4 linked regions of the Homo sapiens genome follow. The protein of the gene in region 3 purifies or fractionates together with the protein of the main gene of each other region. This does not show direct contact. Each region holds a gene or a part of one and is shown on either strand. Other genes may lie near its edges. The genes, in order: TSPAN3, TTYH3, GPR141 and CCNY.

What was found.
Region 1: the proteins of GPR141 (region 3) and TSPAN3 purify together in Homo sapiens (affinity purification with mass spectrometry; 2 studies listed by BioGRID and IntAct, with this or other methods). This does not show direct contact.
Region 2: the proteins of GPR141 (region 3) and TTYH3 purify together in Homo sapiens (affinity purification with mass spectrometry; 2 studies listed by BioGRID and IntAct, with this or other methods). This does not show direct contact.
Region 4: the proteins of GPR141 (region 3) and CCNY purify together in Homo sapiens (affinity purification with mass spectrometry; 2 studies listed by BioGRID and IntAct, with this or other methods). This does not show direct contact.

What each region holds. Positions count from the first base shown.
Region 1 is NC_000015.10:77,054,104-77,061,128, forward strand, and holds part of TSPAN3 (tetraspanin-3), read right to left. Parts: intron 2,153-7,025; coding exon 1,961-2,152; intron 1,761-1,960; coding exon 1,686-1,760; intron 177-1,685; coding exon 75-176; intron 1-74. UniProt on the Homo sapiens protein: Regulates the proliferation and migration of oligodendrocytes, a process essential for normal myelination and repair.
Region 2 is NC_000007.14:2,648,965-2,655,989, reverse strand, and holds part of TTYH3 (protein tweety homolog 3), read right to left. Parts: intron 6,424-7,025; coding exon 6,351-6,423; intron 6,078-6,350; coding exon 6,002-6,077; intron 3,804-6,001; coding exon 3,748-3,803; intron 3,073-3,747; coding exon 2,980-3,072; intron 1-2,979. UniProt on the Homo sapiens protein: Calcium-independent, swelling-dependent volume-regulated anion channel (VRAC-swell) which plays a pivotal role in the process of regulatory volume decrease (RVD) in the brain through the efflux of anions like chloride and organic osmolytes like glutamate.
Region 3 is NC_000007.14:37,679,929-37,686,785, reverse strand, and holds the start of GPR141 (probable G-protein coupled receptor 141), read right to left. Parts: upstream 3,021-6,857; 5' UTR 2,883-3,020; intron 1,608-2,882; exon of another isoform or gene 1,536-1,607; coding exon of another isoform or gene 1,488-1,535; intron 1,327-1,487; coding exon of another isoform or gene 1,203-1,326; intron 1-1,202. UniProt on the Homo sapiens protein: Orphan receptor.
Region 4 is NC_000010.11:35,331,927-35,339,524, reverse strand, and holds the start of CCNY (cyclin-Y), read right to left. Parts: upstream 3,017-7,598; 5' UTR 2,472-3,016; coding exon 2,318-2,471; intron 1-2,317. UniProt on the Homo sapiens protein: Positive regulatory subunit of the cyclin-dependent kinases CDK14/PFTK1 and CDK16.

The sequences.
Region 1 (7,025 bases), on a different chromosome or scaffold from region 3:
GAAATAGCAGTTAGTTTAATGTTGACCCAATCGTGATTGGTCCTCAAAAACAAATCTGCCTCAAGAAAGCTCACCTGTCTCTGTACATAATCAATAGCCCGGCTAGCAGCATCAGGGTTGGTTCCATTGTAGGTCTTATACACTTTCTGAATGCTGCGATCAACCTCATTTTCCACCTGAATCAGAACAAAGAATTCAGTCCCTCAAAAATACTAGTAAAAGTAACATTAGTCAAGGCTCCTACTAAAATACTTAAATGAAATGTTTGCAAGTTGCCAGATATCTATGAATTTCCTGTAAAGTTTTCTCCCTTCCTGCCTTCATCTTCATATAGATATAGATGAAGGCAGGAGGGAGAAAAGTGACAGGTAAAAATTCAGACATATACCACATACATTCAAGCATTCAAAGAGAAGATTGTGTGCAAAATGGCAGGCTAACAATGTATTCAAAAGGGAGAAAAGTTGAGGCTTGGGATAGATGTCCTAAATTATAAATGGATGCCTTCCTTTTACAAATAAGTTACTCATTTTCCTTTCCTAAAGGAGGTAAAACAAAGTAACTCTGAAGCTCCTGTAAGATACTTTTAGGACAAATGCCAACATTATTTCCATTTTATTTATTCAACGTTTAGAGTTGGCTAAATGTGCAAAAGTAATCGGCAGGTTTAAAAAAATCAGTCCTTAGAAATGGCACTTTATGAAAAAGCTACTGTTCAATGTATTGCAAAAAGGAGACAGGAAACAAGCTTCATAGCTTATTGCTGCCAATTACTAAAATGGCAAGCAAGTATCACTTAGTAAAGTTTGCTTGTACCAGATCCTCCTTACCCCTCGGAGGACTGGACTTATCTGGTAATTACAACAGTAATATCATAAGTCCATAAAATTGATAACCAGATCATAGGTAGGGACATAATCCATTGCATTTTTTTTTTAGCACAGCTTTACAGTACCTTACGTATCAATGATCTGAAAATTAACTTGGCATATTATGCCCTTGACTCAAAACCATTAAGTTATAATGAGAATGAGTCTATTATGTCTTTACCATGCCTCTAAAATTATACCCATATTAATTAATTTAAAGCAGCCTGTTTAGCCTTAAGTAGTACTACAGGTAGACAGCAAAATCAGGCAAAATAGAAAGGAAGGAACGGTGAAATGATTAAAAAGAATGAAGGGCAAGAAAGGAGTGCTGGCACCAGCTGCCTTGGTGTTCTAAGTTGGCAGGACCCCTTGTTCCTCAGGACAGGGGTGGAAGGTGGGATCACAACTCACAACACCTTTTTCTATGTTTAGGACCAAAGCATTTTTTAAAGAGACAATGGAAAACGCAATTCTGAGTTTGGTTCTTCTAAAGCAGAAATCAGAAAATTATGCCTCCCCTCATATAGGCAATCTGTGTGCTGAGGAAATCTGAACAAACTTCTCAGCTAATTATTCATTTGCAGCTATAAATACCTATAATCAAGAACAATACATATATAACACTCTGCTATATTAAATGAGGTAAGGAGTCTTGACATGTAAATATTTGCCAATTAACTTTAGATATTTGAAATACAGATTAAACAAGTAAGGCAAAAGAAAATGTTTACTCTGATAAAATGAATGTGTTCTATTTTACTTGAAACACTTAAACCACCTTTTAAGGCATTATGTGAATTACAGTAGACAACATACCTTTGCTCTGTAAACATATCCCAAAACCACTACAACAACTTCTGTGACAAAAACCAAGAGCAGGATGATGACAAACTGTAAGAAAACATGGTTTAAAATTATATACAAATGAAAAAATAACTTTAAATACACTCTTGATTTAAAAAAAGTTATCAGAGATAATTGCTAGAAGTTTAAATGTTAACTCTGTTCCAACTATAAGAGCCAAGGAGTCTCATGTTCAAGGAGAGTAGCATAGACTAAATACTCCTGCATGTTCTCACAACACATCTTACCGTGGCAAGTCCACAGCGACTTTCCCGGATTGTGGCACAGCAGCCAATTAGCCCAATGATGAAAAGCAGGGCTCCTACAGCTATGATCACTACAGCAGGGATGAGCGTGTACACATCTTCAAAGAAGTGGTCATAGTCATCATAAGTGATGAAGACATAGGCTCCCACATAGCATAAAATGCCAGCTGCCCCCTGTAGAAAACAAAGTCAGTACTGGTCTCTAAGCACTGCTGGTAAAAATTTCCTATTATTGCTTAGTATGGTATAATTTAATGAGAGTTACCGTAACTGTTATAGACTTTTTTCAGTAAAGCTGAAAATTCTATGATTCCTTGTTAAGAGCATTTCTATACTAGATAAAATTAAAAAGTTATCCACACTTCACCTACTTTTCACGAATTGATGGTTCAGCTAGGACCAAGAAACCATAACCAAATAATAACAATGATGATGACACACACCTACACATCCCTAAAGGCTTACTGTAGCTCAATTCCACATCCAATACGGATCAGTATGGTGGTAGGGGGATCTTTGCTCACTACAGTTGCCCTCAATAAGTGGGGAAATTTGGTAGAAATGACAGAGCTTGGATTTGAACTCAGGCAATCTGACTCCAGAATCTACACTTCTAATCTCTATCTACCCCACCTCAAGGAAAAGAAAATACACCAACTAGTAAGCATGATACCCACCCCACTTCCAAAAATCTTGCTGTCCTAGAGACAGTGAAATGGCAAAGCTAGAGGGCTCAGTCATTAAAGAACACTGCAAGTCCTCTATCAATTCTTTAGAATGGTGGTTCTCAAACTTTGAAGTGAATAGGAATTGCCTGAGGATCTGAATAACAAGCAGATTGATTCAGGAGGTCTGAGGAGGAGCCTGAGAGTCTGCATTTCTAACAAGTTCCCAGGTGATGCTGGTGCAGCTTCTTCTTGGAGCGCACTCTGAGTAACAAGGTATTAAAGACCTAAAGGGAAAGTGAACACACAAAGACAAGTGATAGGTGTGTCTTATTTCAGCTGCTGCTCCAGGCATCATTCTCCAGCTGCAGAGTCTTACTTTCTCCGCTATTGTCAATTTTGCTATCTTTGGGTACCAGCTCTGTGCTGACAGCCCAATGCCACTGGCTCATATACAAACAAGCAAATGCAGTGTCAGAGTAAGTGTTAAAACATTTGGTTATCACTTGGATAACAATGAGTTATCATTTGTAGAGTACTTTGAAACTTTCACAAGAAGTATTTCATCATCCTTTAAAATTTAACATATAAATCATCTTCAAACTAGAAACAGCTGCCACAGTGATACTGGAAATATCATTAACTTCTCTGAACCTGAAAACCCAGATCATTTAAGTTTATGAAATTCAGTAAGCTTGGGGATCATCAGTATATTTTTTTACACTAGGCCATTAGGATCACTGTCAGATGAGGAAGAAAAAGACTCCATTTATGTAAATTTGGGAAAGTAATTTGATTTTTTAAAATGTAACATGAACTTTTTAAAGTGAGAAGACAACTAGAATAATGAAGGCAATTTTTAAAAACATTGTTTTAAAACTCTCTTCCTCTGGCTTCCAAGAGGCCCCACTGCTGGTTTTCTTCCTACTTCCCCAGGTGCTCACTTTTTCATTCTCTTCACGGACTCTGAGATGTTAGTGATCTCCAGGATTCTGTCTTCGGCCTTATTCTTTAGTCATTCTCTGGGCTCTCCGTGGGCTACAGCAGCTATGGCTTCATTAGTCATTGTAGCTCACTACCTGAGCTATCATCTCAGAACTACACATTTCCATCTGCAAGTTCCAGAGACATGTCATCCTCAACCTGTCTCAAACCCTTTCTGCCTTCCTGCCCAGCCCATCTAATCTTCCCTTACATTCCTATCATAGCAAAAGGTACCAGACATCTAATTTTTCTGGTCAAACATCTGAGGATTAACTTTCCTTGCCCCACCTCTATAACCCATAAATCACAAAACTTCAACTTTACTTCCAAAACATTATTCGAATACCTCAACTCCTCTTCAACCCCACTGCAGTGCTTCTGTCTTAATTTGGGCCTTATCTTATCCCCCTAAATCTTACTTATTGACTCTCCCTGCATCTTAATACATTCTTTATACTACCAGGGTTATATTTATTAAAAATACAAACCAGATCAAGCCATAGCCTTACTTAAAATCAGGATGAGGCAAGTGAGTCCCCGATGAACCAAGCTATTCCTCCTTTTCAGCCCCAGATCTCATTACCCCTTGTGAACTATGAACAATATAGAACTGTTATACCCAAATGGACCACATATTCTCTCACTTCTTTGCCTCCGCTGTTCTCTCTAGAATGCTCTCTTCAAATGCCTGGGAACTCCTTGTCGCTCATTAAGATGAAGCTTAAATGTTACCTCTTCCTTTTGGAAGCCATTCTTGACCATTTCAGGCTGGATTAGCTGCCCTTGGTGGACACAAACATCTCCCAGTGCATGGTTCTAACAGAATATTTATCGAAACGGTTGCAATTATAGCTATACCTGTCTCAACACACCTTGAGAGCACGAATTGTACCCATCTGTCCTTCACCCTTGTATCATCTAGAACAGTACTTGGCAGACAGCAGGTATCAGTTAAAGTTTATTGAGTACACCTCATCTCACCCCTTTCCCTTGAAATCACCCTCCCAACTCTATCATAAGCTTTGGTTTGTATTTGCGTTGGTTTGTATTTGTATTTGGTTTGTATCTGGTTTCTCTTCAGTTCAATGCTTATAGCTTTTAGTTCACTATTCAATTATTTGGCAACTGAATCCAGCTTGCTGAATTCTGATGGCCATTACATCTGGAATATGTTAATATATCGTAAATATGTCATAAATATAAACACTGTACTTACAGCAAACTGCCTGTTCAAAGGTTCTCAGAGTTCACTGACATATTTGCTTTTGGGGCATGGTACTAGAGAATGAAGGTGAGCACAAAAGTGGGGGGGAGTGGAGAAGAGAAATAGTTTAATTTATCTTAATTTTATTTTATTTTATTTATTTTTTGAGACGGAGTCTCACTCAGTCGCCCAGGCTGGAGTGCAGTGGCGCAATCTCAGCTCACTGCAGGCTCCGTCTCCCAGGTTCACGCCATTCTCCTGCCTCAGCCTCCCGAGTAGCTGGGATTACAGGCGCCCGCCACTACACCTGGCTAATTTTTTGTATTTTTAGTGGAGACGGGGTTTCACCGTGTTAGCCAGGATGGTCTCGATGTCCTGACCTCGTGATCCGCCCGCCTCGGCCTCCCAAAGTGCTGGGATTACAGGCGTGAGCCATTGCGCCTGGCCAGACATAGCTTAATTTTAATTTGGGTGCATTTATTACAGAAGTATGTCAACTACTTAACACTCTTCCCAAATACCCCTTTTTATTGACTACTTGTGTGATATATATTCACACACATGTACACACACACATTTTGCTAAAGTAAATAGTATCAGTCCTCACGCTAAATTAGAAGCAATCTGAAGTGCAAATTAATCAAATTTTGTCATTTGTTTTTATTAGACGTTTCTCTATCCTTTAATGTTGTAGGTTTTTTTTACTCTAAAAGGCAGTATTTATTTCTTAAAAGGCTTGAGTTAAAATGAATTCCATTTCTGAGCTTTCGGTACACCTACTGAAACTTCACTAGCTTTAGCCTATGTAAATTCGAATGAAAATAAGAGAAAACTGGAGGCCATATGTACTTAACAATCAACCTGAAGCACAGTTCACTGAAGAACTACTTGCATTTTAGATATAAATTGATGAGTTTTCAATCTAAAGAGGTTCCTATGAGACTCACACTTAGTGCTGCTTGGAGGTGGGCCAAGGGAAATGTTTCCTCTGCTGCCACTGCCTCTCCCCCCTAAAAGAGGCACTCATCTGAAACTGAGACTACAAGAAAGCAGAAAAACCAGCAACAGAGACAACCAGATGCACAACAAATGCAATGGAGGGCTGTGGGGAGATGCCATTTGTAAAGCTGCCTCTTCTTTTCTGATAGACTCTACAACAGTTTTTTTTCCCAGGCTGCAGTCAACATCCAAGTCACACAACAAGATGAGAACATAACAAAGCTCTATTTGGCAACATATAGTTAAAGGAACTTACTAGTTGCACACACCAAAGAGAAAACTGCACGGATTGCTGATATGAAACTATACACATCAAATTGCTTATAAATAGACGATGTGTTTCCTAAATTGAAAACAGCTTCAAATTTTGCTTTTACTGAAATCTGTATATGGTGCTTATATCTTAAGCTGTATAATAAACAATTATGAAATGACACTGGTTACTTTGAAAATATAGAAGAGGTATCCCAGTAGCAGCTGAAGACCTAAAAACAGCCAAAAGTAATTGTTGTAATGATATCCAACCATCAATATGAAAAACACCCAAAAGAACATGGGAAACAGTATAGTAAATGGAAGAGAGGTTCTAAGAAATTCCTAACTAGTATGCATAGGGACTTTGTCATCCCTCAGATTTTTAATGCAGAAATTGTGGCTATCAGAAAAGCTATATAAAAGGTGAGCTTAAATTCTTCTTTTGAAGGGCCATGATGGGATTGAGATCTATCAAAGGATCTGAGCTTTGCCAATAAAGCAGCTGCAAAGGAGGGGGCTGGGGAGGAGGGAGGTGCAACAGAAAAGGAGATGAAATGTAGAACTTGGAAGCAGCTGAACTGCTTTAGTCACCACTGAGAAAATCTGAGCCTGTAAGGAGGATTTGTGCCAGGACAGTGTACTAAAAATATTCATCCTTTTTACAAAGAAGTGAAAGGAAATTTAGGCAAAAGGCTGAGGTCTGAAATTACAGAAAGAATAATTTTTAAAAAACCATTATTCTTTATCTTTTAATAAGCCTATACTCTAAATTAAGTCACAACATTTTAAAACTTTAGGAGAGCCAGTGCTTTTCCACTAAGCTGTCTAAAAAATAAAGCCATCTTGTTATAAAATTTTGCAAGTATATGAGTTCCAAAAGTATGATACTTCATTTTATGCTTTTACCCTTCCTCTACATATGCACAAATGTGAAATATCT
Region 2 (7,025 bases), about 35 Mb from region 3:
AATCTTCGACTGAGATACCCCCCACCCTGGGGTCTCAGTGCAGGTCCTGAGGACAAGGACTCTGGGCCTTGAGAAATGGTGACCCCAGGCCCCTCCTCAGACCCGTGGGGTCTACCAAGGACATGAGGACCCAGAAGCGCCTGTCCAGTGTGGTCGCCACTACGTGAAGACAGACCTCCCTTTATTGTAATGGGAGAAACAGCGAACCCCCACGTGTCTACTGACACGGACCTGCTCTGCTTTTGAAAGTATTATTTCAAGGAACAGCTAAAGACAAGGGAAGAGTCTCATACTGACTGACAAAACTCTCCATGCAGAGTGAGCGCAGTCCTGTAATGTGTCCGTGTGCTCACCGGTGCTTACGTGTGTGCATGCGTGTGCACCTGTGCACGGACACCACCAGCTCTGTCTCATGCCTGGAGAAACGGCTGCACAGAAACACTGCCAGGCTGACAGCGACTCCACAGGAGCAGTGACTGGGCCCATTGCTGCCTTTTACGGCACGTTTTCTAAGGACCCACTACAATCCTGAAATGGATTTTGGGGCCGGGAGCGGTGGCTCACCCCTGTAATCCCAGCGCTTTGGGAGGCCAAGGTGGGTGGATCACTTGAGGCCAAGAGTTGGAGACCAGCCTGGGCAACATGGTGAAACCCTGTCTCTACTAAAAATACAAAAATTAGCCAGGCGTGGTGGCACGCGCCTGTAGTCCCAGCTACTCAGGAGGCTGAGGCAGAAGAATCGCTTCAGCCGGGAGGCGAAGTTTGCCGTGAGTTGAGATCACACCACTGCACTCCAGCCTCGGCAAGAGAGTAAGACCCTATCTCAAAAACAACACCAAAAAAAAAGAAATGGATTTCGGGATAACAGAGCCTACTGTTACGGGCTCAATGGTGCCTCCAGAATTCCTGTGTTGCGGTCTGAACCCCCAGGACCTCAGAAAGGGGCTGCACTTGGAGACACAGCCTTTAAAGAGGTGTTGAAGGTAAACCAAGGTCACATGGGTGGGTCCTAGCCCCATGGGACGGGTGTCCTTATAAGAAGAGGAAAATGAGCTGGGTGCGCTGCAGGCGCCTGTAATCCCAGCTACTCAGCAGGAGAATCGCTGGAACCCAGAAGGCAGAGGTTGCGGTGAGCCGAGATTGCGCCACTGCACTCCAGCCTGGGCAACAGAGAGAGACTCTGTCTCAAAAAAATAAATAAATAAAAATAAAAAAGAAGAGGAGATCAAGACACAGACACCCACAGAGGGATGGTCCTGTGAAGACAGTGGGAGAAGACAGCGTCTACAAGCAAAAGGGAGGCCTTGGAAGAAGCCGGCCCTGCCAAGAGCTGTGAGATGATAAACGTTTGCTGCGGAGGCTGCCCCATCTGGGCTGCTGTGCTATGGGGGTCCCAGGAAACGAATCCACTTCCCTACCCACTCGAGTGCAAAAACGCCAAGAGGGAGCTCTAGCTGTAACAGAAATTCTAAAAAGTAACTTTAAATCAAAGCAATTGTGTGTGTGTGTGTATAATTTTTATTTTTAATTTTTTTTTATGTGTGTGTATATATGTTATATATATATACACATACATACAGAGAGAAAGAGAGAGAGAGACAGGGTCTTGCTCTGTTGCCCAGGCTGGGGTGAACTGGTGCCATCACAGCTCACTGCAGCTTTGAACTCCCGGGCTCAAGCAATCCTCCTGCCTCAGCCTCCTGTGCAGCTGGGATTGCAGGCATGCTTTGCCACACCTAGCTAGTTTTTGTATTTTTTTGTAGAATGGGGTCTTGCTATGTTGCCCAGGATGGTCTTGAACTCGTGGGCTCAAGTGATCCCCTTGCCTCAGCCCCCCAGAGTGCTGAGATGACAGGCATGAGTGCCGTGCCCGGCCCCGTGTGTGTATACACATTTGTTTGCTTTTATCTTTGTGAAGAGCTCCTTGGAGAAGGGCCAGCTGCTCCCAAATGGAGTCTGAGACCCACACTTGTGCCCACAGACGCACTCCTCCCTCTTCATGTCCAGTCCTGGGGCGGTGTGTGTGGGGGCAGGGATCCCCACGGGTGGACCAAACACCTCCAAAGAGATTTGGGTTTTATCAAGAGTATAGCAACGTATTTATTTTTTATTTTTATTTTATTCTTTGAGATGGAGTCTCGCTCTGTTGCCCAGGCTGGAGTGCAGTGGCGTGATCTCCGCTCACCGCAATCTCTGCCTCCCAGGTTCAAGTGATTCTCCTGCCTCAGCCTCTGAAGTAGCTGGGATTACAGGCGTGTACCACCACGCCCAGCTAATTTATGTATTTTTAGTAGAAATGGTGTTTCACCATGTTGGCCAGGCTGGTATTGAATTCCTGGGCTCAAGTGATTCACCCACCTCGGCCTCCCAAAGTGCTGGGATTACAGGCGTGAGCCACCGCGCCAGGCCTTTATTTTATTTTTTTAACATATTGTAATGTAGAAATGCCCGGGCCCAGAACACTACAGGGAAAAACAAGAATCCTCTCAAATTTCCACAATGCCCCCAGGGCACTCACCCAGAGAATGGATCTGATTCTGTTACTCTCTTCCCTCATCTCTTTCCATTTTCTTCAATTTTTTTAAATATAAAGAGCTTGTATTATTTTTAAACAAAGAATAAAGTTATTTTTTAAACGTTGGGTGTGGTGGTTCACGTCTGTCATCCCAGCCCTGAGACCCACCTGGGCAACATAGCAAGAGCCCATCTCAAAAGAAATGATTTTTAAAACCTACCAAAAATTCCCAAGGGAAAGGAATGAAGGAGGGAGGAAGGGGAGGAAAAAATGAGGCCTAACGCGGAAAGGGCTGGGGGAGGGAAGAGGAACACCTCCCATGCCACCTCCAACACCAGGTCCCCACTCGGCCAGCCTGGTGCCTTCTCCAAATTTGCCCTGAGCTGTGTTTGCACCACAAATTCCTTTCATGCTGAGAAAAGAGGAGCCCTGCCTGCCCCAGTGCCTACCCCGCAGCCCCTCACCTTAGTGGCCGGCTGCTCCCAGGGGACGGTCCTCAGAAGCTCAGCCACGACATCCTGCATCTCCACCAGTGCCTTGTGGCTGCCCGACAGCTTCTGCTCCAGAGAGGAGACCAAGTCCATGGGCGCTGCTGGGTCCGCCCGCCTCTCCCTCCCCAGGACCCTCCAACGCGGGGACACCAGCAAGACGTCCAGCCTGGGAGACCATCAAGGCTCTGCTCTGCAGGCCAACAGGGCACTCCCTGCCCTTGCTTCCCCCGGGACACACCCAGAGACCACAGAGCCCTGAGGTGGTAACAGCCAACCACGCACCCACACCAGCAAGCAAAGCACAGTCACACGGCCCTCAGGATTCAAAGGGTCACATGCTACCGGTACAATGACAGGCAGTGTGTACAGGGCTTGACCAGCTGGTGCGGCCGACCTCTTCAAACTCCCCCACCAGGACGCCTGAACACGGTTACCCTACAGAGGCATCCCTGGGGCTCCTCCTTCCCCCACCAAGGCCAATCCAAGGAGCAAAAGCAGTCCCAGCGATGCGGGTGCATTGAGCAGGTCCCCCCGAAAGGCTCTCAGCCAGGTCACCAGGTCACCGGCATGGTAACCCCAGGGGCTGTTGGTGACATCCACACAGCCTTTGTCCAGCTCCCTCCCCCAGTTCCCCAGTCCTGCAGGCTGAGGAGCCAGGCGCCAGGCCTGCTGGGCCCCTCCACACACAGCAATGTGCTTCAGACTCTCCTGAAGCCCAGTCCCGGCCTCCCAGGCTCTCACCTGCTGGAAGGGGTTGGCGGCGCGGGGCGAGCAGGCCAGGTAGTACTGCAGGATGTCTGCGGAGAGACATCAGGGAAGGCTGAGCTGCAACAGCTGTCCCTGTGAGACTGCGTGCACGTCTGCCTGTGTCTGCACGCATATCTTCAGGGCATCTGCGTGCATGTTTACATGTGTGCATGTGTGTCTGTGTGCACCTGTTTACACATGTGCATGTGTCTGCATGTTTACTTACACGTGCATGTGTCTCTGTGCACGTTTCGTGTGCACGTGTGCCGGTGTGCATGTGTCTGTGTGTTTATATGTGTGCATGTCTGTGTGTACATGTCTTCGCATGTGTGTCTGCATGCATTTACACACATGCCTATGTCTGTGTGTGTGGCAGTGGGGTCTGGGCTCCCATCAAGCCAGAGTCCCCACACACTGCCCCTTGCCTGGGTTCCACCTTCCGAACTCTTTACAAGTTCAGTTCTTCCAATTATAAAAGAACATTAAAAAAAAACATTTTAAAAGTTCAAAAAATGATGAAAGTATTTAACAACATAGGAGAGCACCAGGCATCACTGTGGCCGCCTGTGCAGTGAAGCCAGCGTGGCTGGCCTTGCTGCCTTCTGGGAGGGGCTGTCTGGCCCGCAGGCTGGAGCTCACACTTACGTGTGTACATGTACACGTGTAGGGGGCGCTGCTCATACTTGATGAGATCCCCCCAAAGGCCGCCGGCTACAGTAGGGACCTGGAGGGACCAGGATGATAGCACCGGGGCCAAGGACAGTGGTGGGTAGCACTGAGCGGTCACCAGCCCTCCCCGCCCCTAGCAGAGCGGGCCCACCCCTCCACCCTCGCCCCCGAGGACAAGGTCAGTGGGCGGCAGATGACTTTTCCTCCAGGAGGCTCTTCAGGCTTTGGTGGAAGTGGTTCCTTCAACAAAGGCAGGTAAAAAACCAGCCCACAAGCCAATCCTGTGGCCTCCAGGGACAAAGGGTGGCAGGATGGTCACCTTCAAGGTCATTCAGTAACCCTCACCCCCACAGGGACAGGCCTTCTATTTCCTATTGGGGAACACACAATAATTCCACAAGGGGGGCCTGAGAAGCTTAACACACTGACGGCACCCCGATCTCCAGATTCCCACGTCCACCTGCCTCTGTGCCGTCCGACACACATCGCAAACCTCCCGAGGGGGCCGAAACTCCCGATGCCCCAGCTCCCTGCCCCCCACCTCCAGACCTGCTCCCCCACCCACAGTACAGCTTATGGTCCCGCAGCACAGAGCTGCTGAAACCAGGGACGCCAACTCCTGCTCCGTCCCTCTCGCTCCCTACATCCAACTGACCGGGAAGTCCTGCCAGCTCCGCCCTCAAAGCCCATCCCTGTCCACCTTTTGCTCCATTTATTCAAGCCCCTGCTGTCTCCTGCTTGAGGTATCCTCCTCACCCACTCTTGTAACCCTTGAGGCCTGAGGAAGCTTTGAAAGGGACCTTCAATCATGGGTCAAATCTCTCCCCTGCCTCCCTCCCTCCAATGGCCTCCCCCTGGAATAAAGCGAAGCTTGCCACAGAGACTCAGCCCCACTGGCCTCCCACCCTCCATTCTCCCCTCGGGTCTGCCTCCTGCCTCGGGGCTCTTAGAAGAGATGCAGCGTCCTTCTGGCTCTACTTTTTTTTTTTGAGATGGAGTTTCACTCTTGTTGCCCAGGCTGGAATGCAGTGGTGCGATCTCGGCTCATTGCAACCTCCACCTCCTGGGTTCAGGCAATTCTCGTGCCTCAGTCTCCGGAGTAGCTGGGATTACAGGCACCCACGACCACACCCAGCTCATTTGTGTATTTTTAGTAGAGACAGGGTTTTGCTATGTTGGCCAGACTGCTCTTGAACTCCTGACCTCAGGTGATCCACCCGCCTCGGCCTCCCAAAGTGCTAGGATTACAGGTGTGAGCCACTGCACCCAGACCTCTGGCTGTACTTTAATGCCACCCATTTGGCCTCCCCTGGGCATCTACTCGAAGCAGCCCTGGGTCACCTGCCGCTCCCCCTGCCACGCGGGCACCCGCCACCCCACATAGTTCCTGTCATTCTTTGCAGAGCCTCCCACTTGGGAAAGGTGGTCCTGTTTGCTCACTAGCATCTTGGCCTGGGACCTGTCTCCCTGAGACCATGGACCCACAGGGCAGGGGTGTCTCGGCCTCAGCTACCCCACTCTTTTGGCTCAGCCCAACCCTGGGGAACCCGCTGGGACACGGCCGTGGACACAGACTCACCCCCACTCAGCACCGAGTACTCCTCCACCATTTTGGTCACGTAGGCGTCAGGGTCCACACAGAAGTCGCTGGAGCCCTGAGGTGGGCGTGGGCAAGCAAGAGGGGTTGACCAAGCTGGGCCTAAAGGGAAGCTCTCGGGGGTAGAACCCGTCCCCTGGAGTCTGCTTTCAACTCAGGAGGGTGGACTGTGAATCTGGGGTTACAGGTGGACTGTGCCCATGGTGGGTCCCCACCGCTCTCGGGACCCAGTGCCCGGGAAGATGGGAGGGGAGAGGAGTGTGGCTTCCCCTCGTCCCTCCCCCAGTGCCCAGGTCCAGCAGCCGGGGACCTCACCCCCTCTGCCACTCACCACGGACACAGCCAGCTCCAAGCCCAGCGCGCCCCAGCTGATGACCAGGGCCAGGACTCCCAGCAGGCAGACCCTGGGGCAGAGACAGCCAGTCAGCAGCCCCCAGGCCAGGGTGGGGGCCGTGCCACCTGCTGGGCTGCAGGCCAGAAGGCAGGTCCCAGTGCACATCAGGGGTCAGCCCACACATGGGCTGGGGCTCTTCCTGTGGCCTGGCCTCAGCCAGAGCTGCCCACAGCCCAGGGCCCAGATGGATCCCTCTCCTAGGTGGGGTGGGGCTCAGAGATCTGAGCTGGAAGCAGGACTGGAGGGCCACGTGGCTCTTGGGGCCCCGCCCCTCCTGTCCCCCAGGTCCCTCTCCTGAACAGGCAACAGTGTCCACTTTCACGTGGGTCCCCGCATCCCGCCGCCCACGTAGCAGCCCAAGGGGCCTGATAACGTCAGCTAGATCAAGCCCTCCTGTGCTGAACCCTCGCTCAGCAACTGGGGACTCAGAGCTCTTGCTACGGCACTGGCCTCTCCCTCATCTGAGGCCTCACCTCACCCACATCTGGCTCCCTTTGATCCAGATACACAGGCCTCCTGTGCATACCCCACTGCAGGTGCCCCCACCACGAGTCCCCCATATCCCAGTTCAGATCCCCAAAACACACCCCAGTGCAGGCCCCACACCCCACT
Region 3 (6,857 bases):
AGTTGGCCAATTATTTTGAAATCACAGTTACATCCAATTTTGAAAAGAGAAGCCATCTTTGGACTTAGCAACTACTGCTTTTAGACCATCTGGAGTTCCAAGCCTTCACTATCTATGGTACGTAATCTCCATGATAATACCTTCATCATTTCATTCACTTATTCACTCATATAACCATTCCAAAGATGCTGGGTACTTATTATGGGTCAAACCCTGTTCTAAAATATAAAGGTAGCAAAGGCATAGTTCCTGCCCTTAAGGAAATTATGTTTTTAGGAAACAGACTATGCTTAGATTAAGTTTGATTATGACTGTCACGAATAATAACATTGTCATTCAAAATAAGATGGGACAATAACATAATTTGGAAAATACTTTGGTATAACGTATGAACTAGCTTTGAAAACACTTTGCAAAGCAATGTCTCAGAAATCTTTGATCAATTGAAAATTGTTTTCAATGTTATTACTTTGAAAGACAGCACAGACTTGCACATATTCTAACTTCTTTAAAATATTTTTAGTCTGAGTCTGAGTCAGGAAGACTGCTTGAGCCCAGGGATTTGAGACCAGCCTTGGCAACATAGTGAGACCCCCTCTCTAAAGAAAAAAAAAAAAAAAAAAGGCAGGCAGGGTGGCTCACACCTGCACTCCCAGCTATTCGGAAGGCTGAAGTGAGAGGACCACTTGATTCCAGGAGGTGAAGGCTTCAGTGAGCTGTGATTGTGCCACTGCACTCCTGCCTTGGAGACAGAGCGAGGCCCTGTCCCAAAAATATATTTTTTAACATATTATTTAACAATATATTTAACACATTATTTTAGTCACAACATGCTACGTCTCTTATAGTGCTAGCACAATGGCTTACCCATAGTAGACACCAGTAAACATTTCACAGGCTCATTGATTTTAAATTTGGAAAGCACTTTTAGAAATTAGCTAGACCTGTGGTCCTTAACTACAATTGGATTTTGGACCACTTTGAAAATCAATCCGTGTTTTTCTTATTTAAAAAAAAAAAAAAAAAAAAAAAAGTGCTGCCAGGCACAGTGGCTCATGTTTGTTATCCCAGTACTCTGAAAAGCCAAGGCAGGAGGATCACTTGTGCCCAGGAGTTTGAGACTAACCTGGGCAACATGAGCAAGACCCTGTCTCTATTTAAAAAAAAAAATTAATTAATTAGCCAGGTGTGGTGGCAAGTACCTGTAGTCTCAGCTACTGAGGAGGCTGAGATGAAAGGATCACTTGAGCCCCGGAGGTCGATGCTGCAGTCAGTGAGCCATGATTGAGTCGCTAAACTCCAGCCTGGGCAACAGAGAGAAAGGCCCTGAAGAAAGAAAGAGAGAAAGAGAGAGAGAGATGGAGGGAGGGAGGGAGGGAAGAAGGCAGGAAGGCAGGCAGGCAGGCAGGCAGGCAGGCAGGAAGGAAGGAGGGAGGGAGAGAAACACACACACGCACAAAAGGAAGAAAAGAAAAACACACACTTACATTTTTGCATGCAATTTCAGAGGATTGGTGTATCAATCTAAAGACCATCCAGGAACTCCCTTAGCTGAGCATCTCTTATCCAGTCTACAACTTCCATTTTATAATTGTTGAAAATCATTGCTAGAAGAATAGTTGGAAAATTGTGTCACCTAAGCCAAAGCTGGCTCACTTCTTGTTTTTATACAGCCTGTGAGCTACGAATGGTTTTTATAGTTTTAAATGGTTATGTAAGTACCAATATATTAGCCTCAGTTCTACCTCTTGGCTTGCAAAGCCTAAAATATTTACTATCAAGGCTTTTGTAGAAAAAGTTTGCCAACCCCTGGTCTGGAATCCTTAGACAATATTCCCCCAAATTATGCAGCCAATTACTAGAAAACAGAGGACTAGAATTCACACCACCTGATTCCTCATCCATTGGTCTTCCCATTACTTCTATTGACTGATTAAAATCCTAATTAACTGATTTAAACCCAATAAAACAGAAAACAAAGACATGTAATTCTGGAGTACTTAATAAGTAATTTCTCAGATAAGTAATTGTGCAGTTATGTAGAACGCTGAAGTCCAGAGAATTAAGTGACCTATCAAAAGTCATATAACAAATTTGTAAAAGAAACAAAATTAAATGCCTATATTCAGGTTAGGCATTACTGACTTATTGTTTAAAAACTTTGCATTATATTTCATTCCACATATTTGAAAAATATTACTTCTTGGAAGTAGAAAATACTGGTATAGAAAGTATTTTACTTAAAGTAAAATTATTTGAACAGATGTTGTTCTTTTTATTTATCTTATTTAAGAAGTTATTTTCAGATCCTTCCTGTTAAGTAGTACTTTAAAAGTGGGATGGAAAGAATTATAATTACCATTATTTCACATGTTATTTTGAATATACTTCTTTTAGAAATTTCTAAGTACTTGATTGCTTACAGATTGTTTCCTTCTATTGACTAGGGCTGCCTGAATAGTTTCAAACTCTATCTGAAAATAATGCAGTAATAGAGTTAAAGGATTTTCATAACAAAAGGAAATTAAGACATCACTTAAAAGATAAGCATTTGAATAATTATACACAAATTCAATAGTGCCAACTGCTCTAAAAAATTCTATGATATGTTTAGCTGGTTTTTTGACAGAGAGATTCTGAAATCATTTTTGTTCACATTTACCCATAAATATTAGGTTTTACTTTCAGAGCAGCATATCCTAAGCAGTAAGAATAGAACAATTCTTTCTATAAAGGAGGAGTTGTGGTCAGAGAATAAGCTTGCTTTTTAGAGCAGAACCATTTGAAGATTCTGAATTAGGACTATGCCAACAAATTAAGTGTGCTTTATTTCTATAGCACTTTCATTCATGTCTCCCCAAACCTAAGTCATCTGCACTTACCTTGAAAATCCAGATTTCTCAGTGATGGCTACAGAGATGGGCCACATGTCTGCCTTCCAAATAGGATTCTGTTTCAACAGCAGGGCAGCTGGGTCATTTCCATGCTCTGCATGCATTTGCAAAGGCTCTGGACAGCTCACCAAGCAAAAGGAAGTGAATGTGTTCTAAGTTCCTCAGAATGTCAACAGACCATAAAACCTCAAAACCATTTGAAACACAATAGTCTTGAAAAACCAAGCTCTTAAACATGAGTAGTCCAGGTTGCAAACTACAGAGAGGCCAATTGTCAAGAAATATTTATGAAGGATTGATGACTACGATGAATCAAGTTTTTAAAATGTTCTTCAAACTAAATTTTGTAGAGAATGGGGAACAAAGTGGTATTATCAAAAACAAAAAGGGAAGGTAAACTGTGTATTGTTCTTCTGGTGAAGGAATATGTGTAATATTTCCTTTCAGTAAGGAGAAAATTTCCAGAGTTGCTCTATACCTCACTGGTAACTTAGGGCTCCCACTTTTATAATTGTGTTAATTAGCTGTCACTGATAAATGGCATTGACTGGGATATGGCACTATAATTATGTCATTTAATTAGAATTAAGAGAGAAAATATTTAAAATCAGAGTGTGCTATAGGGGCAGGGGAGGGGAGTAAATCGTCACAGCTTAACTTTTTAGACTGTCAACATTATCTCCAGAAGAAGCTGCCCATACAGTCATAGAGATGCACTGCAAGTATTGAGAAAAAAAAACATCAGTTCCTCAAACTGCTTGAACTTTCCTACCATTTGATGACCACTCTATAAATTAGGATTTTATAAACTTTCTAATTATGTAAATCGGTGGTCCCCAACCTTTTTTGGCACCAGGGAAAGGTTTCATGGAAGACAATTTTTCCACAGACAGGGGTGGGGATGTTTTCTGGATGATTCAAGCACATTACATTTATTGCGCACTTTATTTCAATTGTTATTACATGATAATATATAATGAAATAATTATACAACTCATCATAATGTAGAATCAGTGGAAGCCCTGAGGTTGTTTTTCTGCAACTAGATGGTCCCATTTGGGGGTGATGGAAGACAATGATAGATCATCAGACATTAGATTCTCATAAGGAACACTGCAACCTAGATCCCTAGCATGGACAATTCAACAATAAGGTTCATGCTCCCATGAGAATCTAATGCCGCTGCTGATCTAACAGGAGGTGGAGCTCAGGCAGTAATGCAAGTGATGGGGAGCAGCTGTAAATATAGACGAAACTTTGCTGGCCCACTCGTGCACTGCTCCGCTCCTTCTGTACAGCCCAGTTCCTAACAGGCCACGAACCACTGCTGGTCTGTGGCCCAGGGGTTGAGAACTCCTGATGTAGACAGCATGTTAATATTATATAGAAATTGGTCAATTAAAAAGTACTAATTTATTAAATATCAACATTTTCAACATTCCCCTATTTTTAAAATCCATTGTGACATTTCACTATTTCAAAAAGAAATTTTAAAAGGCATCAAAATGATACTGGCCCTGGGTTCTTTCTATTTTAAGGTCCCTAAGTAGAATGATAACTTTGGTAATTTGGGGTGATTCCTGGTATTCTTTACAGTGCTAAAACACTCATTATTTTAGGCGAAATTTTTGCAGTTCTGTTTTCATCAGTATTCACATTTCTTACTCCAAACATAATGTTCTAAGTGCTTCCAACTTTGTTTCTTAGTTTGAAGAGAAGGCCTCTGCATCAGGAAACTCTTCAATTTCAGCAGATGTGCGTTCTTTCTGCCATATGAGTTAAAATGCTATCTGCTTCAAAATAACTCATGCTAGAGATATTTCAAGCTTTATTAGTTGTAGAGAAGATTGTTGCTGACAAACCCTCCTGCTGAGAGCAGCTTACAAAAATGAACAGAATGCAAAACCTATAAGTTTGAAGGCTTCAGAAAGCTGCCCAGGCAATGACACCTTGAAGAAATAAAATCCCCAGAAGACAGGAAGTACAAATCAGTGAATCTGATTTTCAACTCCTGAGTACTTTTTACTCAAGGCACTGCTGATTTGAAACTGGACACTGAGAGGTGAAGAAACAGGTGAAATACAGTGGCTAAGATGCTCAGAAGTTAAGGAAATCTAGTTTAAGAAGCAAACAGAGACCACCAAGGAGGTGGTGCCCTTATAATTACCTCAAATTTTCAGTTAGGACCCCTGAAGGGCTACACCCTAGGAGACAGCATGTGCTAAAAATATTGTACCATCACAAAGTGGGAGCCCAATTTCAAATCACCTAAATTGCTGAATTAGGTAGACAATCACTGAATAGATAGGAGATTTGCCATCGTCATAACGACCTCCTCACACACATCAAGCAAAAGTAAATACTCTCTGGAGGACGATAACACTAACCAGATCAATGAATTGACTCTCAAACTTTTTAAACACAATGTCCAAATTTCAATAACTATTAAAAGCCATGTCTGAAGATAAGTCTAGAAAAACAGACCATGAAAATAAACAGAAAATAGAAACAAATGCACAAGGGCATTCAGAATTGATTGGTTTTAAAATAGCTGTAATCAATGTTTGAAGAGAGTACACAAAATATAGAAAATTTACACTAGAGAATTTTTTTAATAAAATAGAAATTCTGAAACTGAAAAATAAAACAACTAAAGTTACTTAACTGATGAAGACTAATAGAAGATTAGACACAGAGGATGATGGAATTGAAATATAGGTCAGTAGAAAGTAGCAGATTGGGCTGGGCATGGTGGCTCACACCTGTAATCCCAGCACTTTGGGAGGCCAAGGCAGGTGGATCACCTGAGGTCAGGAGTTCAAGACCAGCCTGGCCAACATGGTGAAACCCTGTCTTTACTAAAAATACAAAAATTAGCTGGACATAGTGGTGGGTGCCTGTAATCCCAGCTACCAGGGAGGCCAAGGCAGGAGAATCGCTTGATCCCAGGAGGTAGAGGTTGCAATGAGCTAAGATCACACCATTGCACTCCAGCCTGGGTGACAAGCGCAAAACTCAGTCTCAAAAAAAAAAGAAAAAGAAAAAAAAGAAATACCAGATTGAATAATGGCAACAAAAAAAAGATAAAAATTATATAAAATCACACAAAAGTCATGAAAGACATAGGGCAAAGTTTTAACATGCCTATAATGTTGCTCTGGAAAGAAACAAGAGGAAGAATTTGGAAGAAACGATATTTTAAAGGGCAATACATTTTTTAAAAAATCATAATAAAAAAAGACATAGACTCAAGAAGCACTATGAATCCCAAAGAGAATAGAAACAACAACAAAAACTCTACCAAGGTCCAATATATGAAATAAAAAAATGAAGAAAGAAATTTTAAAATTATGTTACACGAGAAGCTGAGATGATAGGATTGCTTTCAGCCAGGAGTTTGAGACCAGCCTAAGCAACATAGTGAGACCTCCATCTCTAAAGAAAAAACAAAAACAAAACTTAAAATCTGTTCGGAGGCAAAAACTTTTAAGTGTGCAACAATAAGATTGAAGACAGCCTTTTCAACAACAGCAATGGAACCCAAAGGAAATGGAACAACATCTTCAAAATTGTAAAAGAAAATAACTGCTAATTTAGAGTTCTTTATGCAATAAAAATATCCATCATCTTGATGACACAATAATATTTTCAGACAAACTGAAACTATGATGATTTGTAACCCACCAACATGAACTAAGGGAAATGCTAAAAGGAGTGATTCCAAAAGTGCAAAGGCAATCCCAGGTGAGAGCCAGAACTGCACAAAGAAACCAAGAGCAATAGAAAGAGCAAATGTGTGGGTAAACCTATGTACATATCAAAGATTTACAATAACAATAGTAATCACCTAACAGGATTTGAAATATAGGTAGAGTCAAAATTCCTGACAATAATGGGATAAAGCATGGAGAGATATAAATTGAATTCAAGTGTTCTAAAATCTTTGCATCTTCTTGAAGGTGG
Region 4 (7,598 bases), on a different chromosome or scaffold from region 3:
GTTTACTAATAACCTAACAATCAATATAACTCAGTTCAAATACATACAGATATAGATGAGCAAATACAGACATATAGATGTATATAGTGTGTATATATATACACTCTATTTAATTAAAACCTGTTCTCTTCTCTCAGCCTCTAATAATGAATTTCTACCAAAAATGTCCCTGAACGGCAGGTAACACTTCCAAGATTTGCCCAGCCAGCAATTCTCAGGCCTACCTGCATCTCAGAATCACCTTGGAGAGATTTAAACATATTAATGGCAATGTCCAGTACTAGATTTCTGGTTTAACTGAAACCAATGTTGAGAACTGCTGGCTGGGTCAATGCTAGAAGTATTATTTATTGAATTTGAGAGACAGAAGGTGAATTAATATTTCGGGGTTTAAACTAGCATAATCATATGAACTGGGATCTGGGATGAGAGGGCACTCCACAGCCTAGATTGGAAACCTGCCCTATACTCTCTCAAACTATCCTGAATCTGCAAAAGAGTCTTCCAAACATTCTCTCAAAAATTCCTGATGACTGAAACTTAAGATTTCTTTGAAATGAAAGAACACACAATATCATTTCACTGTACTCTGGCAAAATTGTACTGAGCCTTAGTGCCAAATACCTGGTTACACTTATTTTTTCCACCTTATTTCCTTACAATAGTCTATAATAACTGTATGCAGCCTGGCTCTAAGAAATGTAAATCTTCTTTTTTTTCTTTTTTGATCCATCATTCAAAACAAAGCCTCCGCTAGATACTGCACAACATAAAAAGGAAATTTACTGCACATCATAAAGAAGACATTATTTCCAAATGTTTTCGCCTGTCAACATAGTATAGGACTGGGTAATGGCTTTCTGTAATAAACTCATTCATTTATTCCTCCCTTTAAAGTACAATACTTACTGTTTATTATATGCTAGACTTTTCTTTCAGGTGCTAGAGGCTGTGAAAGTGATCAAGACCGATCTGGCCTTCATCCTTCTAGATGCCTTTAAATGCATAAATTTAAGAAGAAAGTATGGCTGTAGTTCAAAGACATCTAAGCGTATGTTTAAAATAATGGAAATCTAAAATAACAACACTAGACACGTCATATGGAACCATAATTTACTAAGCGCGTACTAGAAACCAGACGTTGTGTTACTCCCTTTATACATGGCACTCATTTAATAAAGATGCTCTCCTAAAAAGATTAAACTACCATTTAGAAGAAATTACACGAAGACAAACGAGAAAAATCTTTCCTTTAGCAAAGTTTAAATGTGGCCTTTCCACAGTGGAGAGAATCTTCCATCCTAAAGTGGACAGGAACGAATTATGAAGTTGTGTTCATTCATTCACACAAAAATTTCTTCATATTAGTTCAACCAGATTAACTATGAGAAGATGTTTGGGTTAAAAAAATCACCTTGTCATAAAAAGATACTTCCAATTTCAAATCTTTTCAGTTGAAAATTCTATAAACTATATTTTAAGCATGATGCATAAATATCCCTCTGTCGTTATCACTGAGCAACAGTGCTAATAAATATGTTGCCAAACCAATAAAATAAATAAAACATTACTGCGTGCAGTAATTAGTCTTAGCTTTTTTTCTTTTTGCAAACTCCAGACCAACCAAAAGTCACCTGAATAAATCAGAAATTCATAGGACTGCAATTCGGGCCCATGCAAAAACTGAGACTTAACCCAAAGGTGTCTGACAATCTTTTAAAGAGCATTCTCGGGAGAAGCTATTTGACTAATCCTGGAACCGCCACTCAAAAAAATCATTTTTTAAAAAAAACGGTAGAATGGGAACGGGGGAAGTGGAGTCCATTTGTAAGGTTCCGGGGAACTGACTCAACATGGTTCTCCAACTCGAGGTTGGAGACACCGGGATTCCAAAATGGGAATCCACTCACTTCGCTTTTATAGGACAAACGCGTGCACAACTTGGCTTCGGGCTGCATTCAGGTAGTGCCGGGAACCCCGAGCTCCCGGGCCGCCCCCACCCAGCTCTGGCCGCTCCATTAAGGACGAGGGCCGGCTCCTGTCACCTCGCGACCCACGCGCACACACCCGCCCTAGGCCCGCCGTGCTCGATGCCGCGGGCCTGCAAAGTTTCCGCGGCCGCTCACTTGGGGGTAACCAGCGAGGGGTACGCCCAGAGGCTGCGGGGCCCCGGGCGCCTAGGCTGCGCGGGCGAAGCCCCGGTTATGCACGGGTCGCCGAGACCGGCTGGGCAAGCAAGAGCAGCCGGGCCGCCCCGACGTTGGCTGTGCGACTGTTGCCGCGGGGGCGGGTAGGGGGCTCGGCGGGCCGCACTCACCGTCTATGTTCTCCCGGTCGCTGATGTGCTGCAGGTTGCAGCCCGTGTCCTCGCGGCTCAGGTCCGTGTCTGGCCGGTAGGACTCCAGCCGGGAGTGGGCATTCCTCCGGAGCTTGGGACTGGACGACACGCAGCACGAGGTAGTGTTCCCCATCTTCGGCGGCCCCCCGACTCCTGCTGCTATCCTGTTCTCCCAGTCCCCGGGAGCGGGGCGCGGGTGGACGCGGGGCGCGGGCGGCGGGGGCGTGTGGGGAGGCCCGCCCGCTCGCCGCCACGGGAGGGGGCGGAACGGCGGCCGGCCGCCGGGTCAGCAGCGGCGGCGGCGGCGGGGCCTCGCCATGGGCGGCGGCGGCGGCGGCGGCGACGAGCGGGCGACGGCCCCGGCTCCCCCTCGGCCGGCCTATCCGCGGCGGAGGAGCGCTCGGGTCCGCGCGACTGCGGCCGCCGCGCCTACCTCACCCCGCCGCGGCCATGGCGGGCGGCGCCGCGCAGGCCGCCTCCCCCCCGCGCTTCCCCAGTTGGTGTCCGCTTCCCCGGCGGCTGCGGCGACGGCGGCCGCCTCGGCAAGAGGTTCCGGTTCAAGCCGGGGGCACGCGTGTCCGCGCCGGACGGCGGGACTAGCCGACGAGCGGGCGGGCAGCGGGCGTGGGCGCAGCCCCCGGACTCCTCGCGGCGCGGTGCGGCGCGGCCAGGGAGGATGCTGGCGGCCCTCCCTCGCCAGCGGCGCCCGCCCTCGCCGCAGCCCCCGCCCCGCCCCGTCACCGCCCCTTCCCTCTGCCCTGGAAGCAGATCGGCGGCCGCGGGGAGGTTCGGGGCGGCGCAGCCCCGCGCGGTTGTGGGATCGCTCCCGGGGGCCGCTCCTCTCTCGGGCACTGGGGTCGCGGGAGACGTCGTCGGGAGCTCGGTTTCTGGAGGCCCTTCCCCACCCGGCCTCTGCCTCCTCCACTCCCCCGGGCTGGACGGAACGGGGCCCAGCGCGGGATGCGAGGTGCGTCCCCGGGGCCCGCAGCGGGCGGGAGCGCAGCCAGGGCCCGGTCGGGGACGCAGGCCCAGGGCGCTGAGGCTGCACCTGCCTCTCCGAAACCGGGCTGGCTCTTTTTGTCTTTTTATTTTTCTAATTTATTTTTTTAGAGGTATGATTTCGCTCTGTCGCCCAGGCTGGAGGGCAGTGGCGCAATCTCGGCTCACTGCAGCCTCGAACTCCTAGGCTGAAGCGATTCTCCCGCCTCAGCCTCCAAAGTAGCCGGTACTACAGGCGCGCGCCACCACGCCTGGCTAAGGTGTGTGTGTGTGTGTGTGTGTGTGTGTCTCCAAAGTAGCGAGGACTACGGGTGTGTGTGTGTGTGTGTGTCTCCAAAGTAGCGAGGACTACAGGCTCCCGCCACTACGCCAGGCTAAGGTAGGGTGTGTATGTGTGTTAACTTTTTGTAGAGATGGGATCTCCCTTTGTAACACGGGCGCCCGCCACTAAGCCAGGCTAAGGTGGTGAATGTGTGTGTGTGTGTGTGTTAACTTTTTGTAGAGATGGGATCTCGCTTCGTAACCCGGGCTGGTATCGAACTCCTGTCTTCAAGGAATCCTCCCGTCTGGACTCCTCCCATGGGATTACGGGCATGAGCCACGGCACCTGGCTATTTTTTTTTTCTAAGCATTTAAATAAGCTGGGGCTTGATTTGGGAGTTTTCTATTGTATTTTGAGCTTTGCCGAGGACTTGATAGTGACCTTGCTTTAAGCTGTGAAATAAATCTTGGGGTCCCAGAGCTATTTTAATATTGAATTCGCTGTGGAGTTGTTTTGAGTTCCTTGGAGGTTAACATGAGATAGAAAACTAAGTTAACACAACTCATCGACTGCCCTTGCTTTGCTTTGCTTTGCTTTTAGAATGCCATCGGGTTTTGTCATGTTGGGAACAAGTTAACTTAGGCCAGTTGACTAAGATCAAGGTATGTGAACATGCCTGGCTGGGAGAGAAGTAGAGTAAATGTTGGTTCGCATTCCCTCCCGACGCCCACAATGCCAGCCATCCCTGACTTTTCTTGCCTTTATTGGGAAGAATATAAGGTGGCAGAAACAAACTTCCCACCCTTTTTCCAAATATTTACTGAAGGAGTCTTGAGGAGAGTCTTGTGGGGTGGGGGGGTGGGGGTGGGAGCTGGGAATGTTTTTGAACTAGTTCTTGAAAAAAAAACTAGTACAATAGTACAACTGTCTTAATTTTATATATGAGGAAACTGAGGCCCAGAGATGAAATCATGCCTTGATTTATGCAGACCTCAGTACCTGTTCGTGACAAATCCAGTTACTAAAAGGTAAGAGAAGGAATAAGGGACTTGATATTTATCTAGCATCAGCAATGTGTGGACATCGTGTGAACGGCTTTATAAACATTTCATTTAATTCTCTACATCTAGCCATTTTTTAACCTGTGCTTTCCCTCCCTCTCAAAGTACTGTTTATACATTTATTAGTCCATATTTTAAACGCTCCATGCTCTCAACTGTATTAATGCTATTTGTTAGGATAAGTGGCAGATGTCCATGGAAAATAAGTGGCTGCAAAGTGGTAATGCTGACCAGATGAGAAAAGAAGTGTAAAAGGGAAGTTCTAAAGAATTAAAGCCCTGGAGAGGGTGGGTAGACAACAACAGTCCAAAATAGTGCTCTTCATTGAGGCTGTGTAGATTTTCCTGCTTCCTGGGAAAACTGGGGCATATTTACACTTGCATGTGTGTATTCAGATTGTCTGGGGCTATGGAGTTTGGGTCAGATTGCTGAACCCGTGGGAGAGAAGTTCCCTTGTTGTCTGTTGTTGTCTGTTCTGATTGCTGCTTTGTAATTTGGGCCACATATGAAAGTCAGCATCCAGTCATTGGACCATAGGTGTGTGGCATATCTACTCAGATGCATTAAGCTATTTTTATTTCATTATAAAATGTATAACATTTACATTCAAATTATGGTTTGAAGGGCTTAAGAGGAGAAAGAGACAGTGGCACTAAGGTGACAGCATGGCTGGCTGCATGCTTCCTGTCCAAGAAGGTCACTGGGCAGTGTTAACTGGGAAGAGCATCTGGAGGATGAGAGATCAGTGTAGCCACATACCCTTAACAAAGGGTGGTACAGCCTCTGGTCTGCCAGGATTTTTGTGCCCCGCCCCCCTCCCCCTCTTTCCCTATCTCCTCTTTGACATTTCCACCATATTCCCCTTAGGTATGTACCTGTTTGGACTTTAATTTAGAGTGTAACTTTTGGTCAAGAATCCTGGAGAGAAAAGACGGGTACTAAAGCCTCGCTAGTGATTTACCTGGGTGCCGACCCCCACAACTCATCCACCCTACATGCATACTTCAAACTCCTCCAGGCAGATACTCCCTGCCTGACACACAGTGACACTTTGGGAAAAATTGCAGAACAGTAACCAACTCTGAGCAGATAAATGTGATGTCAAAATGATAGTAATGAGAGATGTCGTTCGTTGAAAGCCTGCTAGCTGCCATGCACTATACTATTTCTTACATCTAAATCTGATTAAGTTATACCCCATTTTATAAATAGACACTTTGATAAGTAAACCTATCTAAGATCAAAATACTGAGAAATGTCCTAATTGGGGATTTGAACCTGGTTCTAATTCCAAAGTCCAAGCTACATCCACCCCAACCTCCTACCTCCTATCTCCAAGACTTTGTGAGTAAAAAAACAAGTGTCACTTCTCTCCTTCTCTTTTTTCTGTCCTAAAGGAAGCTGGGAGCTAACCACTTAGGACTAGTACTAATCTTTCAGAGAAAGGGATGAGGGGAGCCTTGTTATTTCTGTGGGGTTCAGCTCTCAGACCAGAGTAAGACAGGCAACAAGGTTGAGGAGTAGCCATATGCAGAAATAACCTGTGTATCTAGCCACAGGATCTCCAACACTGTGTCACTCGGGAATCAAAATACAGAGACAGTTCCTCAATAGAGTGTGGATCTAGCCCAGAATGTGGACAAGGGGAGTGGAGAAGGGGAGAGGTACACACTGAGCATTGTAACAAGGCCTGTCCTCAAGCTTGAGGAGGATTAGGAAGATGGCTTGAGTCTGGGAGTAGGAGGCTGCAGTGAGCTATGATTGTACCACTGTACCCCAGCCTAGGTGACAGAGTGAGACCCTGTCTCTTAAAAGAAAAAAAAAATTGACCTGGATCTACTCATACCCACCCTGGTCTTTGAGCAGAAAGAATCATTTGGGAATTATTTTGTCTCATCTTTCTCCATGATCACTGTTGAAGAATTTGGTCACTGTAACCAGGTAAATATAAAACTCAGGTGGGCCGGGCGCGGTGGTTCACACCTGTAATCCCAGCAGTTTGGGAGGCTGAGGTGAGTGGATCACGAGGTCAGGAGATCAAGACCATCCTGGCTAACACAGTGAAACCCTGTCTCTATTAAAAATACAAAAAATTAGCCAGGCGTGGTGGTGGGCGCCTATAGCTCCAGCTGCTCGGGAGGCTGAGGCAGGAGAATGGTGTGAACCCGGGAGGTGGAGGTTGCAGTGAGCCGAGATCGTGCCACTGCACTCCAGCCTGGGTGACAGAGCAAGACTCCGTCTCAAAAAAAACTCAGATGAACTATAGCTAAGTCAGTGCTCTTGACACTTTTTTAGCAATAGTAGCTTTGTTTCTCACAGAAAAAACAAAATTTTCTGTGGAACCACACTATTTAAAACATAAGCAATATTAGTATCAACTTGTATAATTTATAGATCTACTGATAAAAACAATCAAGAATAGTCTACCTTAATTGAATCAGGAGGAGATAACTGCAGTCTTACATCAGCCATACTCGTATCCATGAAATATGAGTCAGTCATTTGCACAACTCCCTGAGTCACCTTCTGGAACACAGAAAACACTGAGCCAAGTTAGCCCAGGACCTGAACCTTTTGTGGAAAGGAAAATCTGTAGTGTCTCCTCAGAGTATGGCTGCCCTTTCACCTGGTAGTCAGTTTCTCATGACGGTTACTCGAGCATTTATAAGGCAGTTGTGAAATAACCAAGACATTCTGTGTGTTGTGCTACTGATGCTCCTCCTGTCACCGACCTCCTCTCCAAATGAGGCCTGCCTTTTGTCCTTGGTAGTAGGCAGTCCACAGTGTAACCAGCTACAGGGGAAGTATTTACTTTGATAGCCACTTGACCTTGATCAAGTCAGGTGACTCATTTCTGGATAACATTTTTGAGAGTATACTGAGCCAGGCACCTTGAGGATACGAAAGTGGATTATAGTTTCCATTCTGGAGAAACTCA